Linked DNA regions of Homo sapiens: region 1 is reported to be linked to region 2. Evidence: microRNA targets listed by miRTarBase, many of them from high-throughput screens and not tested one by one. Region 2 holds a microRNA gene; the other region holds the end of a gene's coding sequence.
Evidence for each region. The annotated mature microRNA hsa-miR-5007-3p reads AUCAUAUGAACCAAACUCUAAU and lies in region 2 at 2,551-2,572, opposite strand. An mRNA with a match to its seed (bases 2 to 7 or 8) in the 3' UTR can be bound and repressed. Matches are read on the target gene's strand: a 7mer-m8 pairs with bases 2 to 8, a 7mer-A1 pairs with bases 2 to 7 and ends in A, and an 8mer does both.

Region 1 (4,413 bases), not on the chromosome of region 2:
GAGTTAGAATTAAACAGTTTACTTTAGTAAGGAGGTGCAAAATCTTAATTCCTATTAATTGGTTATAGTTGATGGTTTAATTTTTTAATACAATTAATGATTTCACACGAATAATATGAAGATTAAAGAACTCTGATTGTTGCCCACATGTTTATTTGTAGTAATGGTAACATTTAATAACTTTATTGAGTATTGCAGATGGCATTGTGCCAACTGCTGATAACTCAGCAGTTAATAAGACAGTTTCTGCTTTATTTTATAATTTTGATTAACTTGATGCTTATATTTGTAGTGTTTTGCTTTTATTTCTGATGCGAAATTCTTCCCTAAAATAATAGTATTCAGTTCACTTGCTTGAAGAGATTTGAATATATGTAATTTTGAATATTTTACCTTCAGTTACTAAAAATATTTTTGTCACTTTCAGCATATGAAACACTCTCAGATGCTAATAGACGAAAAGAGTATGATACACTTGGACACAGTGCTTTTACTAGTGGTAAAGGACAAAGAGGTAGTGGAAGTTCTTTTGAGCAGTCATTTAACTTCAATTTTGATGACTTATTTAAAGACTTTGGCTTTTTTGGTCAAAACCAAAACACTGGATCCAAGAAGCGTTTTGAAAATCATTTCCAGACACGCCAGGATGGTGGTTCCAGTAGACAAAGGCATCATTTCCAAGAATTTTCTTTTGGAGGTGGATTATTTGATGACATGTTTGAAGATATGGAGAAAATGTTTTCTTTTAGTGGTTTTGACTCTACCAATCAGCATACAGTACAGACTGAAAATAGATTTCATGGATCTAGCAAGCACTGCAGGACTGTCACTCAACGAAGAGGAAATATGGTTACTACATACACTGACTGTTCAGGACAGTAGTTCTTATTCTATTCTCACTAAATCCAACTGGTTGACTCTTCCTCATTATCTTTGATGCTAAACAATTTTCTGTGAACTATTTTGACAAGTGCATGATTTCACTTTAAACAATTTGATATAGCTATTAAATATATTTAAGGGTTTTTTTTTTTTGACAAATTCAACATTCAACGAGTAGACAAAATGCTAATTATTTCCCTGATTAGGAAAGTTTCTTTAAAAAACACGTAATTTTGCCTAGTGCTTTTTCTCTACCTGCCCTTGGGCTCACTAATATCACCAGTATTATTACCAAGAAAATATTGAGTTTACCTGATTAAACTTTAAAAGTTAATTGTAGATTTAAATTGTGTGAACCTAATGATTTTTGCAGTGAAACCTTTACTAATTCAAAGTTGCATGTTCTATGACATCTGTGACTTGCGTTGCAGAGTGTACATGAAACTGTATAATTGAGTCATTCAGTAAAGGAGAACAGTATCTTGGTTAATTGCTACTGAAAGGTTGAGAAAGGAATGGTTTGATATTTACCACAGCGCTGTGCCTTTCTACAGTAGAACTGGGGTAAAGGAAATGGTTTTATTGCCCATAGTCATTTAGGCTGGAAAAAAGTTGAAAACTTAACGAAATATTGCCAAGAGATTGTTATGTGTTTGGTTCCAGCCTAAAAATGATTTTGTAGTGTTGAAATCATAGCTACTTACATAGCTTTTTCATATTTCTTTCTTAGTTGTTGGCACTCTTAGGTCTTAGTATGGATTTATGTGTTTGTGTGTGTGTAGTTTATCCTCTCTCTCATCTTTATCTAGAGATTGACTGATACCTCATTCTGTTTGTAAAACCAGCCAGTAATTTCTGTGCAACCTTACTATGTGCAATATTTTTAAATCCTGAGAAATGTGTGCTTTTGTTTTCGGATAGACTTATTTCTTTAGTTCTGCACTTTTCCACATTATACTCCATATGAGTATTAATCCTATGGATACATATTAAAACAAGTGTCTCATACAACATTGTATGTGAGAGAAATATAAATATTTACAACCTGATATTCGTTGTTGTTTTATTGTTAAAAGTTTATTATGCAACTCTGGAGGTATAGAGGGCATATAAGCTATGGGACATATGCTGATCACAGGCTATATTCATGAAGTTACTTTTGACCAACCTGAAAACTGATAGGATTTTGTTTGTCATTTGGTAATTTCTACTGCATTCTTACCATCCTTCTCTCACAAATTTTGATAGCTTGAAGATCTTTTTAATTATAATTTTGTTGTATTTGTTTCCTAGGAGCAAGTGTTCCTGCTGCCAGTTCTTTCCTCTTTAGGCGTGGTTGAGAAAAAGCAGAAACTTTACATAAAGCTGTATTTCTTAATCATCTTTAATTTGAAACTTAAGAAAATGAATTTATTCTGTTATATTTATGTAACTTATTTCCTGGAAGTTATATCTACTAGTTTTGTTTGATAATAATAAAATTAGCTATACCTTGAATTTTGGGCTGAGGATTATCTGTAGCCTATTTTAAAAAAAATCAAGTTTTGAGACATTCCAGTAATATATAAAGCAGAAGAGTGTGGCTTGGGAGATAAATCAGAAAAACCACAATCAGGATGTCCTGGAGAAGCTTTAAGGATTGGATTTGGGTGAGGGTGCAGAATTCATTCATATTAATTTATTGAAGAACTGCATTGGAAAGCTCTGCTCTTAGCTACTCCCTCCAGGTAAACAGTTGTTAACAAAAGTAACTTTTTCCTCAGGCAAGGGACTAAACAAGTCTTGAAAGAATGGGGTTATTTGGGGGAAGACTTACCCATTGAGGGTATTAGGGTGTGAGGTGAAGGCAGAGTAAAGGTGAAGTGAATTTTCACTTGAAGGTCAAGGGGGTGCTGGTGAGAAATGGCAGCACTCCCAGAGTAAAGCCTCCTTATGTTGGCTTGGTGGGAAACAATTTCTCTGCATGCAGACCACATACTCACCTGTGGGTACCTGCTGGTTAAAAAACCCTGACAATTTAGCCGGGTGTGATGACATGCACCCATAATCCCAGATACTCTGGAAGCTGAGGTGGGAGGAGTTGAAGGCTGCAGTGAGCTATGATTGGCCACTGCCTGACAATTTACTGAGAACCATCGCTTCTATTCAAAAAGGAGGTCTAATGCAGACACATAACTGCTGAAGAAACTGCTTTTCTCAGCTATCTGTGCAATTTGATCTAATCCTTCATAAACACATACTGATGTCCAAAGAATGTCAGACATTTAAGGAAAACTGATAGCTAGGAAAAGAAGCCCCAATGATTAGCCCTGACAATGTAATTCAGAGATTGAATTTAAGATTCTAGTATCAGATTTTTTTAATAGAATATTGCATCAACAGATAAGGACAGTTCTTGTCTTAACCTGCTTACTTCAGGATTTCTTTAATGATGGTGTCAGAACAGATGAAGTAATGTGAACTTACATTTGGTTTACATTTACATCTAACAACCAAAGTCAATGGGAGGTAACAGATGTGTGGTACATGTGTTTCCTACCATGCAGGCCTACTTTTTCCTTTGAAATTCATATTCTTCCTCATATCTCAACTTTGTTACTCAACTCCCTCGCAAACTTCTCTCCAGAGGTTGCCCTAATGTGGAGCTACCTAAATTTATTGTGCAGTTCTTTTTACTGTTACTCATTATGATACACCGTAACTGGTGAGCAGGATGGTGGGGGTGATTACATTCTTATGGAAAAAGACAAGCAATAACCATATGAATAAATTATAAACTGATAAAGTATGGAAAAAAAATGTAGCACAGGAGAGGAGAATTGTGAGGGCAGGCAGGTTGAGGATGTGTTGCAATTTTTGACAGGATTGTCAGTGTTGGCCTCATTGAGAAGGTAAATTTGAGCAGATGCTTGAAGGGAATTGTTTGTACTGAAGGTGGAAGCATATGTGGGAAGTTGTAGGAATGGCAAAGAAGTGCGCATAACTGGAGGCCAGTGAGCAAACCAGAGTAGAAGGAGATGAATTCATAGATAAGAGGGGTTGAAAGCAGCCCTACAGATCACCTAGGGCCTTGCCAACCTTTGTAAAGGATTTGATTTTGGAATGTGATATGGTGGCTGAGCTTGGAGCAGATAAATGACTTGATCTTTAAATCATTTTAAAAGGGTCACTCCACGTGCTTTGTTCAGAATAGACAGAGGGGCAATGGTGGAACAAGGAGAGAGTTTGGAGGCTATTTCAGTATTCTAGGATGAGAAATTGTTGCAGCTTGTGCATCGCACGAGGGTGGCAGCAGTGGAAGTGGTAGGAAGTGGTTGGATTCCAGATGTATTCTGCAAGTACAGCTACCAGGATTTGCTTATGGATTAGATGTAGGTGTGAAAGACAGAGGAGAAAACTATGATTCTAAGCTTCATGTTCTGAGTAACTGGAAATACAGAGTTGCCTTTAAGATGGGAGAGGCTGCAGAAAGAAATTTAGGAGGAAAAATCAGAAGTTCAGCTGAGATATATCAAATTTGAGATGATGAGT
Region 2 (4,413 bases):
TTAAGGAGTGTGGTTTGTCTTTTCCAACTTGTTTCCATCCTGAATGTTTATTATTCAGGAAACTTTAAGACAATGAGAATTTTAATATTAACATTACATCTTTGACACCTGAGGGAAAAATAAGATGTTAACATAAACTAAAGTCTCACAGAAACCACTTTCTGAGTAATTTCATTGCTCTCCATTATGCCATCTTCTCACAAACACTTTTTAAATTAAACAAAAAGAGATAAACATTATTGCCATGTTCTGTTAAATGGGATGTGTTGGTTAATATTGTATAATTTAAGAATTTTCTTACCCTTCAATTATATATTTGATGGTACTGTAAATTAAGACATGGTAGAAGACATTTTCAAATAAACAACTATTTATTATTGAAGGGAAGTGAGAAAACATTTTCAGTTTGATTAAAATTCATTGAGAGTCTAAATGTATAATACATAATTATCAATATACTTACAAATTGTGAAAATATACATTTGAGAATTTGTAACAGTAAAACCAGCCACCTTTTATTAAAGAGACTGAATATGTTAAAAGGCCCAAAGTTAAATTCTTTTTCCTTTTAGGATAGCCCTTACATTAATTTTCTATTTCTACACAACAAATTGTCACAAACTTAGTGACTTAAAACAATACCTATTCATTTTTTCAGTTTCCATAGGTTAGGATTCCAAGTACATGCTCATGTCCAAGAGGCTGCCTGCACTTCCCTGCCATGAAGCCCTTTCTGTAGAAATTTTCACAACCTCTCTGTTTTGTTCTTTAAGGTCAGCAAGAGAAGAGCTATACAACAATTTATTAAAATGAAGTCTTATAAGTGTATTGTAATCTAATCACTGCAGAGATACCCCAGCACGTTTTGTCATATTCCATTAAATGCAAGTTCCAGTTTTGCCCACATTCAAGGGTATGGTATTATACAATAGGTGACTTCCTGGGGGTTACACTAGAGTGTGTCCACCCACAGCTCAGATTGACTCACATATGTTTATATTTGAAAGGTTGCAATACTAAGGTTGTTTCTGGTATCATAGAATACTTAATAGCATTTACTCAGTATGACTCTTTCAATATCCCTTGAGTAAGTTACTAGTGAGTACTATAAATCTCCAAACCACATAACGTAAAGGAGTGCTCAGAATAGTAAATTACACATAGTAAATATGTAATAAATGTAATGTGTCAACATTATTATTATTTGTATGATTACTGATATATGCATTGGGTTTGAAGATCAGTGTGATAAGCCATACTTGAGTTTCAATGGGACCTGCAATAGATGCACTACAACAGAACAAATAATATGATTGGAGTGACAGAAAAATTAACAACCAAAGATAGATCAAAATCTGAGCTTCCTGATGAACTAGAAACATTGTGAATGCTTAGGTTTCTTGTAATTCTGTAGACTCTCAAACAGTGCTTGTTTGTTTAATTAGTTAATGCAGACTTGGTAGGTGGACTGGAAATGTAGTGACAATGAGTAAAAGATGGGTTTTTAGAGAAACATGTAGGCGGCATTGGGTATGTCTTTGGGATATGTCTATAGTAGGTGAAATTTTGCATCTTTTCTACAGACACTAGCGGAACCAGGAGAGAAGATAATTTCCCTATTATAGCTGATGTCAGCTTACTATTATAAGTAGAAAGGCATGACTCAAAGATAGACTAGTAGAAGAGGGGTATCTCATTAATTATGTCCCCAATAGCTATAATCACTCCTACTTAAAATTTTTTATCCTAACATTACTTTTTTTCTAAGAAGAAATGTTGATAGGCTGTGAAAATAAGACGATCACAAGAAAAAAATAACTCAAACCATCAAATTTACTGTCTTATTTAATGTCTAGCAATTCTTGCCATTTTCAGGGATTCTCTCCTACTCTGCCTTTTACATTGAAGAATATTTATTCTACGTTGTTAGTTCTTGGCTACTGAGCTTTTAGTTTTGACCATATTTATTCGTCGAATCATTAGTTATCACTGGGGTAGTAAGACTGGATATTATATAAACAGTGAAGAGACATCCCTAACAAATATGCTTGTAGAACTGGGGATAGTTAATTATCAGCAGGTTACAAGTGAGCTTAGTCTTTGAAGAATAAATGAAGAAACAAAAGTGAAAACATTGAGGAAAGCATTCCAGAAAGATGAATACAAATGTGCAAAACTTTGGAAACATGAAAATGCATGATGTTTTATAAAGAGAATTTTAGAAGAAGCTTTATGTCTGGAAGGTAAATGAGTTTTGAAGATTTGGCAGCCATGTGAGGCTAAAGGGAGAATCTGGGGCCAAAATATTAACAACTTGGGGGAGCTGAAAGTTTGCAAATATAGAAGTGACGAAGATCTACATTTTACAGACATCTCAGGAGATGAATTTAGGGTTGGTTTTAAATGACAAGAGTTCATTTAGAAAGATGGTACAGTAATACAGGTGAAAAAAATAAAAATTTAATTAAAAGAAGCATTCATCAGTATAAGAAAGAGAAGGCTGATTTGGAAGATATTTGAGGGATAATTTTTAACAGAAATTATTGACTAATTAGAGTTTGGTTCATATGATTTAGCTCTGTGTCAAACCATATCAGCCAGACTCTAATTAGTCACCAAGGTTTACCAAATCTCATGTCAAATTGTAATCCCCAGTCTTAGAGAGGGGTGTCCATTGGGAAGTGACTGGATCATGAGGGTAGAGTTCTCAAAAATGGTTAGGCACCACTGCCTCAGTGCCGTTCTCTGATAGTGAGTCAGTTATCACAAAGTCTGGTTGTTTTAAAAGTGTGTGGCACCACTCCCCTCTCTCTCTTCCTTCTGCTTCAGCCATGTGAAGTGCTGACTCCTTGTTTGCCACCCACCATGGTTGTAAATTTCCTAAGGACTCCCTAGAAACCAAGCAGATGCTGTCATACTTCCTACATACAACCTTCACAACCATAAGCCAATTAAATCTCTTTTTTTTAATAAATTACCCAGTCTCAGGCATTTTTTTATAGCAATGTGAGAATGAACTAATACACTGGCTAAAGAAGCAACATTTACCTCAAACTGCACTGCCCAATAAGATATTCTTGAGCCCGATGTGGTTATCCACTTTTACTTTATATTGATTAATAGGTAAATTTAATTCCTGAGCTGGCATGAAGGAATCCTGAGTCTCAGCAACTCAGGAGATTGAGGCAAGAATTTGAGACCCCCATCTCTAAAACAAAAAATTATATCTCAGTAGAAATAGTCAATTTTAAGTACTCAATAGCTTCATGTGGCTTGTGGCTACCATATTGGAAAGCACAAATAAACAAGATTTTCTTCCTTATTGAACGATCTATTGGACAGCAGTAATATAGAGTCAATTCCTGGTATCCTTTGTGTTTATCAGAAGAAACTTATGAAAAAATCCAATTGGGAAATAACATAATGAGATAAGTCATAAATTTATTATGTTTGCATTAAATGTGGGTATACAATTGTTTTCCACCACTCTTCTGCTTTTACCAATAATGCATCAAGAATATCTGTGTTCTTATAGCTTTCTATTGAGATGCAAAATTGTAGGCAAAATTCCTAAGTGATTATTTATTATCTGCAAGAACATGTAATATTTAAAACAAATAATGATTGCAAAGTTCTCCTCTAATTTATATTATCTAGTTAAATGAGAAATCTTATTTCCCATGCAATAGCTTACAAAACTATATAATACAAAAAATAGAGATTTTCCAATCCAATCTCAGTGTAAAATTGCATATTTTACTTCATATGTATCTGACAAGTGATTCTAAATATTATTACATCTTTATAAGCAATTTGTATAGTTTTTTAGGTCTGACTTTATTATATTTTAAGCTTCTTTACTCCATTGGTATTGATTTGTATGGCATTTTTATACATTTAGAATATAAAATTAATCACAAAGTTGTCTTATAAGTTAAAAATCCCATTTCCCCATTATTTATTTCTTCATTTACTTTGTTTATGATGTAAGTGTAGCCCCTTTAAAATGTTGTTAAATATATCAATATTTCCTTTATGATTTGTGGAATATAACTCTTATTTATGTATAAGATCACTCTTGCCTTCTAGTATCTTGATAGTTCTTATGTTAAAGTATGAATATTTGATCTCCCATTTATTTTTCTATAAATTTATTTTAACCTACTAAGTGGTAGAACATTAAAAAATTGTAGCTATATACAATTGTATGAAAAAAAGAAAAGCACTAAGATTTCTTTGTTTTGTTTTTGTTGTTGTTAAGTGGCAAAAAGTGGCTAAAAAATCCCCTAGACTTTGTATGTTTGCATGCAAAGGATAAGCAGTAGAAATCTAATGTTTATAATAAAATATTGGAATGATTCCAAATAAATTAAAGAAAAAGTAAGTAATATTTTTCTCAATACTATACTCAGG

Region 1: the mRNA of DNAJB9 is a reported target of hsa-miR-5007-3p. Seed matches in the 3' UTR shown: 7mer-m8 at 1,843-1,849.

The regions. Positions count from the first base shown.
Region 1 is chr7:108,572,472-108,576,884 of GRCh38, forward strand. It overlaps DNAJB9 (DnaJ heat shock protein family (Hsp40) member B9), which reads left to right. Exons shown (of 3, transcript NM_012328.3): 3 at 428-2,379. The coding sequence ends at 882. Among named protein-coding and RNA genes, the nearest start is that of DNAJB9, 4.8 kb to the left of the region's middle.
Region 2 is chr13:55,172,668-55,177,080 of GRCh38, reverse strand. It overlaps MIR5007 (microRNA 5007), which reads right to left and starts at 2,627; the gene lies at 2,533-2,627. All of the region lies in intron 4 of LINC02335 (long intergenic non-protein coding RNA 2335), which reads right to left.